Regions from separate parts of the Homo sapiens genome. Here region 2 is linked to region 1. The links come from fine-mapping of genetic effects on gene expression. A gene starts in region 1. The other region holds a variant in brackets. All regions are shown on one strand. Distances are between the middles of the regions. Region 1 holds the start of FCRL3 (Fc receptor like 3). Region 2 overlaps FCRL5 (Fc receptor like 5).

Evidence for each region. PIP is the estimated chance that this variant, and not a neighbour inherited with it, causes the effect. A credible set is the group of variants that fine-mapping cannot tell apart.
Region 2: its variant is the best candidate, but not a certain one, in a credible set for the expression of FCRL3 in whole blood (TOPMed, PIP 0.52).

What each region holds. Positions count from the first base shown.
Region 1 is chr1:157,698,535-157,704,065 of GRCh38, forward strand. FCRL3 (Fc receptor like 3) reads right to left here and starts at 2,235. Exons shown (of 15, transcript NM_052939.4): 1 at 2,128-2,235; 2 at 1,925-2,051; 3 at 1,158-1,178; 4 at 1-95. The coding sequence starts at 1,955.
Region 2 is chr1:157,541,576-157,546,762 of GRCh38, forward strand. FCRL5 (Fc receptor like 5) reads right to left here. Exons shown (of 17, transcript NM_031281.3): 4 at 3,256-3,507; 5 at 2,687-2,971; 6 at 1,284-1,562. Among named protein-coding and RNA genes, the nearest start is that of FCRL5, 8.3 kb to the right of the region's middle. The variant GA/G (reference allele first, on the strand shown) is at 2,405.

The sequences.
Region 1 (5,531 bases):
ATGTGATATGCTGCTGCATATGAGAGCCACTTTTTCTCCTTTGAAGGCTGTGGACCATGGAGGATTGAGGAGAAGTACAGCTTTTGGGGCCACCCCTAAACAGGAAATAGAAAGATGAAGGCAGGGGAAGGTCAATGGGAGGTGGGCACAGCACATGGGGAGCCCAACCTACAGTCAGGAGTTTTCCTGGACTAATTTCCAGTCAGGACCAGGGTGGAAAATTGAGCAGAAATAACCTAGGGAAATGCCTGGGAAAGAATCTGTTCTTCCTCATCCATTTCCTGGAGGTGGGCAGAAGGGTATTATAGGGGAGAGGTCTCAGTTTCCTGGCATAGCCTCAGAAAAGCTCAGGAGATGTGATTTGCCATTGGGCAAAAACTGCGAAGGCCTCAGAATGTGGCTGATCCTGAAATTCTCTTGTCCTATACATTTCTGTCCAGATAAAGGTGAACCTGGGATGTATATACCTCAGAAGTAGTTTCTAGACTCCAGAAAATTACTTCCTACTTGTTAACACTTAAAATGAATAAGATTTTCTCACTTGTATTACTTTTATATCTCTCTTAGCTTTGAAAGTCTATGGGGAAGGCAACTTTACTCTCCATTTAAGTTGGACACAGTAAACAATGGAGGGATATAAAGAATTTAAATGGAGGAGGATGGGTTGCCTGAGAAGTCAGACTTGTGTATGGAATTGCAACTGACTGACAGGCATGGAAGTGAGGTGTGGCAGTGGCATGAGCTCTTTTTGGAGATTTATAAGGATTCTGCTGTAGCATCTTCCTCCGTGGATGGGATCTATTTCTATGTCCTTTGATAGCAGCACTAGCTTGGACATTCAGAGGGAGATGTACTAGAGAATATGGAGATCACATATGAGATTCCTTCATCATCAGCCTCTTGCCTCTGTCCTTTGCTCTGCAAGTGTTTCCTTCCTGTAGTCTGAGGAATACCGGTAATGTAGGGAGAAAAAAAAAAAAAAACCTAGAGACTGAAAAAGTCGGAGGAGGCTCTGTTCACCCAATATAGTAGCAGATGTGACCCCAGAGCATTAGCATTGCTGATGGGATGCGTGCCTGCAAGGGTTAGGGCAGGCTGTGTGGGCTGAGGGGACCAATATCCAGAGACCAGAGGGGCAGAGAGAAGGAGAAACTTACCTGATTGTTCTCTTCCAGGAGCTGTGAGGGAGCAGAAAATGACAATCAGACACTCTCCGAAACATTTTCTAACAACCTAACCACAACCACTTCTTTTGTTTTTCCTTATCATTTCTTTGCTCCCTTTTTATATCATCCAGAGCCCCTAAACAACAAAGAAAATGTCATATAATGTATTTTACAAACGTGATGGCTTATGTCCAAGGCCTGACCTCATCTCTGCTATTATTTACTTGGCCACGGCACACTTTATTCTCTCCTTCTCTTCTCTGAGTGCAGAGGCAGACAAGGACTTACAGAAATGGTTTATCCTCCTTTCGTTCCTTGGGCTCCTATTGTTCCCCTCACTTTTTCAATCTCTGATTAAATTTTGGCTTAAAACTTCTAGAAAACAGTGATGTTTCTCAGTAAACCTTCCTTCACGTGCCTAGGTTTTTAGAAGTAACTGCTCATCTGAAAAATTATTTAGTCTGAGGCTTAAGAGGGAGGGTGGGATATAGAGTTGTGGTTTGGCAGAAGGAAAAATCCAAGTTTCCTATGAGGTGAGAAAAGCAGTGGGTGAGAAACCAAGGTCAGGATATCTGGCTTGCTCTGATGGTTGCATTTGGAGCCTCTTGGTTGTCCAGGGAACCCAGCTCTGCTCACTTCCCATCCCTTGCTATCTGTCTCTGAACCCCAAGTAGAAGCAGAGATAGAAGCTCCTTGAGTTTTTCCCTGGTCACCTTTAGGAACTGAGGCCGTGGCCCCATTATAGCCCATCTACTCACTCAGGATCAGCAGCAGCAGCCACAGAAGCATGGGCACCGGCCGGGCAGAGGGTTGGGAAAGTCTGTCTCACCAAAAGCCCGACTTATCTCCAAGAAGGAGGGCAGGAAGCTGCTACTCAGATGAGACCTGCAAGAATCAGAAAAGGGAAGAAGAGCTTAGTGTCATATTTTGCTTTGGGCTCTGAAAATGTGAATGTGGCTACCTTCCTAAATGCTGTTTGTATCTCAATCCCGGTAGTGATACATTTTTAGAAGTTGGGGCTCATCTTCCATCAGCTGCAGTCTCTCAGGAGTAATGTCTCCAAGACTGTGCCTGGGTTCTCTAGAAATATCAAGTTGTGTATTTGCTAGTATTCAAATAATTCTTTCTGTATTTTTCATATGGGAAACCCCTTCACTACCTTGTCTTCACACAGCCTTTGGTTCTGCATGCAGCTCCTAATGTAGGCAAGCTTAATGAGCGTGGTGTGAATCACACAGTCAAGGTGTCAAGCATATGCCTTTTTGACTTTCACATAAGTTGTTATGAGGCTTCTGAACAGGAAAATAATACAAATGTACAGATCAAGGACTTCCCGTAATCTCACCCAGATCTGCAAATTAGGAGATAAATCAGCAAGCGTACCACCGTTTTTAAAGCCAAAGCCCTTCTCAGAAAGGGCTTTGCAATCAAAGAGGTTCCACCCCATTATTTTGTTTCAGGTCCTTTGTGTTTTTTTCACAGTGTTTATAACAATTTGCAATTATTTTCTCTATTTCCTTGTTTGCTTTCGTGTCTTCTTTCCCACTAACATTTAAGGGCCCCTTTTCTTACCCCTTATATCCCCCGCACCTCTAACTGTTCTTTCTTGAAAGCATTCCTTTAGTAAGTATTATTTGAGGGACTATTGAATAAAAACTCTGAACCAGTGTTTCTCAACCATTTTTTCGTTATTGCTCCCCTAAGGATCTTTTTTAGACAATTTTGTTTTTAGCCACCCCCTTTTTCCATGAAAATTTAATACCACAAATATACTATGTATGTGTTTATGTGCTGCATGTATAGCTGTGTTTGATACATTAAAAAATTAGTTTTTTTCATCTTCCCAAGAGTCAATTCTTGCCCCTTTGAAGGTGATATAACTTCTGTTAGGAAGGCGTGTTTTAGACTTAGAGGTAAGCCATTCTTGGGAATCTACCTACCAGGATAAAGTTGTCATCATTCAGATACCTTTACATTAGAAATGGGAGATGATCTCAGATCAAATGTCCCATCCTCAGGGTGCCCAACCTTGGCAGGTAATGGAAAGAGGGTCCTCTTTTTTAACAAATATTATTATGTTCTTTCTCCCATGGAAGTCACCAAATTTTATCATTCTCTATATGTTTATGTGATTGTATAATGCCTATTTTTCTCATTAGATAGTATTACAAGGTTTGGGAACAAGCCTGGTTTGTTCTTCATTTTGTTTCAATGCCTAACAGAGCACTTGTCACATACCAATTTGTCAATAAGGACTTGCCAAATGAACGACCAACAAACAGTAAGGAACAGGATGACAATAGAAGAGGATTGGATGTGTTTCAATGTGTGCTTAGTCATTCCTGGTTAGAGATTTCTCCAATATTCTGGAGAAGATATATTGGTTATATCAATTTATTTAAATTAAATTAAATTATTTATTTAAACTATACCCAGTTAATCCACACTACAGGGTCTTTGTAAACTTGTAATTGTAGAGTATGGTGCCACATCTACTGAGAGGTATTCTCTGACCTCCCACATTTGGGCTGGGTGTTCCTCTCATGTGCATCAATAACACTTGGATTTCCTTCACTCCAGAACCGATCACAGTGAACTGAAACATCCTGTCCCTTTGATGGTATTCCTCAATGATCTAAGTATCTTTAGGGAAGGGAGCGGTTAGGGCTTATTTTTTATTTCTCTGAGGACAGCATGCTCATCAACAAAAGGAAGGTTCAGTGGGATATGGATAGCTTCGAGATTCAGTGTGTCATTTCAGACTAATTCAAAATATGAATAAACCTCAAATATACTTCATGCTCAAAGGTGACGATGTTGTTGATGACTCTGAAGTATTGTTTCCTGTGGTTGGAAAGATATGCTCAGAAAAGAGTATTTTGAATTTAATTGCTCATCTGTAGCCAAAAATGTTACATTTTTCTACGTCTCTCTCTGAAGACAGGAACTATGTCATATTCACATTATTCTAGCACCTAGCACAGTGCCTAACACTCAGTAGAGGATTGCCAGATAAAATGCAAGGGTCTCATTTAAATTTGTATTTCAAATAAAAAACAAATAATTTTTACTATAATTATGTTCCATACAATACTTGGGATATGTATGAGTTCGTTTTCATGCTGCTGATAAAGACGTAACAAGACTGGGCAATTTACAAAATAAAGAGGTTTATTGGACTTACAGTTCCACATGGCTGGGGAGGCCTCACAATCATGGCAGAAGGCAAGGAGGAGCAAGTCACATCTTACATGAATGGCAGCAGGCAAAGAGAGAATGAGAGCCAAGCGAAATGGGTTTCCCCTTATCAAACCATCAGATCTCGTGAGATTTACTCACTACCAGAAGAACAGTATGGAGAAAACTGTCCCCAGGATTCAATTATTTCTCACTGGGTCCCTCCCACAACACATGGGAGTTATGGGAGTACAGTTCAAGATGAGATTTGGGTGGAGACATGGAGCCATATCAGGATATAATTGCATTTAAAAAGTAGTCACTGTTTATCTGAAATACAAATGTAACTAGGAGTCCCATATTTTTATTTGCTAAATACGCCAAATCTAATTGAACAGAATAACTTTTCATTTGCCTGAATATATTAATGAATGGTTGTGTTGGGGGGACATCTATTTTCTTCCATGTGCATGCAACTCCTACTCCTGTTCCTCCTTCTGCTCCTTAACTCACTCCATCCTGGAAGAAGTGACGTGCCTTATGTGATCAGTAAATTTGGGAAGAATAATTGAGTCATGATAAACTTATTATTATTATTACTATAATTTTTTGAGAAAGAGTCTCACTTTGTTGCCCAGGCTGGAGTGCAGTGGCACAATCTCGGCTCACTGCAAACTCTGCATCCTGGATTCAAGCGATTCTGGTGCCTCAGCCTCCCGAGTAGCTGGGACTATAGGCACGTGCCACCACGCCCAGCTAATTTTTGTATTCTTAGTAGATACTGGGTTTCACCATGCTGGCCAGGATGGTCTCGATCTCCTGACCTCATGATCCACCCACTCGGCCTCCCAAAGTGCAGGGATTACAGGCATGAGCCACCGCACCTGGCCCCATGCTAAACTTAACTCCATGCTCTTCCCCCTGGATGCAACTCTACTGGCAGAAGGGTTTATGAACAAGTATACGCCTTCCCCTGTGTGGAGATTTAAGTGGGGAGGGAGTGAGGGAGTCTAAAGTTCCAGAGCAAATTTTCAGAGACACAAACAATTGGGGCATGGGTTTAGATGTAAAAGAACTAAAAACAAAAGAACAAATGTATGAGAGCTATATATTTACAAGGAGAGGCTTTTGGTGGGAAGAGATCCTGTCATTCTCAGCCTTGGGATTTGTTTAGTAAGAGAGACGGGC
Region 2 (5,187 bases), 160 kb before region 1:
TGTTCCCACTCATCCTCAGGTCTCAACTCACACATGAGTTCTTCCAAGAAATTTTTTCTCACTTCCCAACTCAGATTGGCATGCCTTTCCATCTGCTCCTGCAGCCACCAGGTGCTTCTATCCTCAGGTTGATGTTTAATCTCTTACTTGACTGCATTTGCTATTAGCCCCTACGAACTGTGTGGGGAAGGCCAGGTTAGTGTAGTCGTAGATGCATCTTTAGATGTCAGTACAGTCTGGTCCATGGAATATATGCAATCAGCATTTATTAGGTGAAGAAGTGAGTCATTGAATAGGACTTTAAACATCTCTGAGCATGTTTGATCATGATGTCACTGTCTCCACTTTCTTTGGGCCACTGAATGTCAGGGACACTGTTCTCTTTCTACGTCATTTGATGTCTCCCGCTGGGTTCCCTGGTCCTCTCCTTTATAATCTCACACATCCATGTGGGAGGGACTGGATTCTTGCTTGTCTTCCAAGCTGGTATTATTGTTTTACAGGAAAGGAAACTGATGCCGCTTCCAGGACCAACCAAGACTGGACTCTCTGTCACCAGTATAGACCCAAATCACACTGTCTCCTTCAACATTGGACCTGGCATTCAGCCATGCATGGATGGTTCGAAACTGAGATCCAAAGCTCAAAGGAAACCTTTTTGATGTCATAACTATTTGGCAGCTACCTGAATAGCTCTGAGGGCATTAAGCCAAGCAAGTAGAGGTGAAGCTATCTCCTGGCCTGCCCCCAGCCCACCATTGCCCGTGCCTTTCTTACCTACTGCCCATCAACTCTAAAAAAGGCTTGAGCAAGAAGGACATGCTGGGTTAACTATGATCCAGCGACTTGTCTTTGTGTCTTACATGTCTTTGCCTTTGGTTTATTGATTAATGTCTGATATTAACAGAACAGGAGATACCTCTGTGCTCCTGGAAATTGAGTCTGTGTCTACTGAGAATAATATAGTGAATGAAAATCAGTCATCTGGGGAGCCACAGGACAAGTGGAAAGCACAAGAAAAGCACTTGGCTTCTCAGAAATTGGGAACCAGGGGATAGAAAGCCACTGCACCATCAGGCAGGGGTATAAGGGCACCTAGACTGCAATGCAACGAGACTCAAGAGGCAGACAGCTGGTTCAGTGAGCCGGAGAGTGGAGGAGGACATTAGGTTTTCCCAAGAAAGAAACTGAGGATACTGGAAGGTATATGCTGACTTCCGAAGGGCAGGGTGAGGCAGGACTCTTGGCCAGGGGTGGGTGATTGGCAGGAATGCAGGGCTTACCAGTGACTGAGAGGCTCACAGCCTTACTGGGCTTGGCGCCAAGGCCATTGTCAGCTGTGCAGTAGTAGTTCCCTGAATTCTCTGTAGTCAGTGAGAAGCTGATGGATGCTCCCCTTTCACAGCGGACTGACTTGTGCCTCAGGGGGACACCCTCATGATAAAACCTGTACAAAGTGCGCAGAGAATCTTCCTGGGTTTCACAGTGAAGTGTCACCTTGGTTCCCTCAAAATTCAGAGCCTTTTCAGGGCTGAGAGTGAGGACAGGATGAGATGCAGGGACTGAGCAAGAGAAAAAATTAGTCAAGAATTGCTTTTGCCTCTTACTGTAGATTACAAGGCATGGCCAGTGCAAATGCCCAGTCTCCAGTCTCCACCCTTAACTTGCTGCCATCAGAACCACACACCCTTACCTGCACCTGCTTCTTGCTCCTTCCTTCTGCCCTATGACTATGGAATGTTGCACCTGAAGTGCCCAATTATTCTGAGTCTTCTTTCCTATCCCTGTTTATTTCTCCTTCACTTGCATTGGCCTCAGGGATTTATTTGCCATTGCTAGTTTTTCCTTAAAGATTAGCATAGTCTTCTAGAGCTTTTTCTTCTGCTCCTACTCTCTCCCTTGGCCCAGACTGACCTTCTTTATTTACAGGTGAGAAAACTGAGTCAAGGAGAGACTAGGAGACCTGCCTGTGTAGGCTGTTTTCAGGGCCAGCCAGGGCCAGAGTTGGTGTCCTGACTCCTAGTCTGGTGATGATCACATTGCCTCCTTATAAGTGAGCCCGGAGTTTGCCATGAGTGGAGGGATGACACAGGGCTCTACAGAAGCTGTTTTTCCCTCATCACTGTAACTACCATAATAGCTTTGAAGGAAGGATGGTGCTGTATACTAGTAAGGGAGGTGATGTAATCTGGGGTGCATATTTGTACTCATAACTAGGGAATGGTAAACCTCCAGAGTCACATATTTGGAGTAACTATAATGTTGCAACCTGTCTTTGTATCCTACAGAAATTTTCACTTTGGTTATTGTCAATAAGTAATGTTAATTGGGACAACAGATACCTCTGTACACCAGAGTCAGAGAGCTATGCCACAGCCCATGGCTTATCCCTATGGGCCTAGAA[GA/G]AAAAAAAATGATGTCAGGGAAGAGAACCCTGCGAGAGAAAAGAAAGAATTGTATTTAATGGCATTGAAAGAAAAAAAATTAGACCTTTCTTTTCTTGGATTTTCCTGGGTCTAAGCTCTTCTAAGATGTTCACAAGAGTAGAGGTCTCTTTGCTTGCACAACTCCCATTCTCACAGGTACGAGTTTTTTCTACAGAGACTGGTGACCCACGCTGATATGCAGCCCTGTCCCACTTTTCCAGCCCTCTCTGCAGCAAATCTCAGGTTCCACCAACACTTACTCTGCACCTGTATCCAGGATCTCGGGCTGTCAGATATGACGCTGTAAGGCATTGTTGCTGCCTTACACCAGTAGAACCCTGAATCTTTACTCCACATGGCAGTAATCTGGAAATTCGGGGAGAGACTCCAGCCTAATCCCAGGGTCTGGTCATCTCTGAAGAAGCGGAACCGGAGCGGGACATCTGACCTCTCTAGAGAGAGCTGGGTCTCACAGGTCAGGGTCACTGGGTTCCCGCTGATGGGCTGGAAGGAGCTGGCTCTCAGCACTGGACGTGTAAATGGCTCTAGAGAGAAGAATCACAACAGTCCCAGAGCAATGAGGCTGGAACTGCTTTGGAGAAAAGCACACTTCAAGCAGCAGCACATCCAAAAGCAGGCAAAGAAAGGAATGCCATTGATCCCTAGCTTCCTTCAGCCCAAAACACTACTATACTTCCTCTGCTCCTTGCAGGAATGTGTCCTGTGGTTTAGTGGTATTCCAGTCCACCCTTTTCCTCCTGTTCTATCTCTATGACCCCAAGGAATCTCCTTTTGACCAACTCACTTCACAAAATAATGAAGGCTTTACCTTGGACTTGGATTTTGACTGTATTGGAAGAAACAGGGCAACAACTTTCCTTATATCCAGTACAGCGATATGCACCATTGTCCTTGAGACATGCATGAGGAATATGGAAGTCAGTTCTTTTATTAAGGAATGCCAGGACATTATCATTCTTGTAAATAGTATTATTCAGTGTTACTTCCGCCTTTGCCCGGCACCTCAGAACCACAGAGTCTCCTTCAAACACAGAAAGTGGAGCTTGCAGGATCAGCGAAGCTATGAGAAACACAATAGAGTTATTTGGTTCATCCTACTGTTTCCCCTTTCTTTTCATTGTTTTTCCAAGTAGATTTTATTTTAAAAAAATGGGTTGGGAAAAAGAACTCTTAAAATAATTATCATTTCTTTTTTTCTGATTTAAAAATGAACACATACACCTTAAGAAAAGTTGAAAAGCAGAAATGTAGGTAAAATCACCTACCATCTCACCACCCATGTTTTGGCATATGTTTTTCCAGTTTTCTCTTCCACTTTCAAGTACTTGGAGCTCATGCGTATTTCTTTTATGGAATAATATTAATATTTGTAGATTTGATAACTTTCCTTTCACTTACTATGCTATGAACACTTTCCTACATCATTAGTATCATTATTGAACCTGATTTTTAATGTTTGCGGTTTTCCTTCACTGGCAGTAATGTAATTTCTTTAATGAGTTTTTTTTTTTTTTTTTTTTTTTTGAGACGGAGTCTCACTCTTTCACCCAGGCAGGACTGCAGTGGTGCTATCTCGGCTCACTGCAAGCTCCATCTCCCGGGTTCATGCCATTCTCCTGCCTCAGCCTCCCGAGTAGCTGGGACTACAGGCACCCGCCACCAAGCCCGGCTAATTTTTTGTATTTTTAGTAGAGACGGGGTTTCATAGTGTTAGCCAGGATGGTCTCAATCTCCTGACCTCGTGATCCACCCGCCTTGGCCTTCCAAAGTGCTGGGATTACAGGCGTAAGCCACCGCGCCTGGCCAGGTATTCTTTTTCTAAACCATGTTAAGGTCTGCCATTTTCAGGGATGGACATCTGTGATTGTTTCAGTAGGCAAATTCTTAAGAGACGGATTGTTAAGTCAAAGAGTATAAACATTTTTGTTTATTCCTTGCTAGTACACTGCTTCCACTACATTAAAAAATGATGTAACTTCAACTTCAAAACAGGTGGCTTTAGGACAAGGAAGGAAATGTCTCTTCCTTTATCTTTCTTTCTCTGTATATTTATCTACCTATGCATTATCTACCCATAAGTATGAACAATTCTCCTGCCACTTATTATTCCAAGTAAATAATGTGACTTAAAACTATACATAGAGGCCGGGTGCAGTGGCTCATACCTGTAATCCCAGCGCTTTGAGAGGCCTAGGTGAGCAGATCACTTGAGCCCAGGAGTTCAACATTAGCCTGGGCAGCATGAGGAAATCCCATCTCTGCTAAGAATACAAAAATTAGCCAGGTGTGATGGCGGGCTCTTGTAGTCCTACTTACTAGGGATACCGAGGTGGGAGAATTGCTTGAACCCGGGAGACAGAAGTTGCAGTGAGCCGAGATAACGCCACTGCACTCCAGCCTGGGTGACAGAGCGAGACTCCATCTCAAAAAACCAAACCAAACCAAACCAAACCAAACCAAACCAAACCAAACCAAACCAAAAAGCTATACATAGATTCAGGAACCACTCAAATAAATTAATCCTCAGACTTTCTGGTACCGGAGAGGCTTGTAAAAAATATAAATTGCTGGACCCCACTTCTACAGGTTTCTATTGAATAAGCATAGGTAGGTCCTGAGTATCTGTATGGTTGATAAGCTGCCCAGGCTTTCTGACTCAAATCAAACTTTAAGAACCACAGGTTTAGAGACATTAATCCACTCAAGTAAAAATTCTATTTATTTTAATGTTTAAAATTAA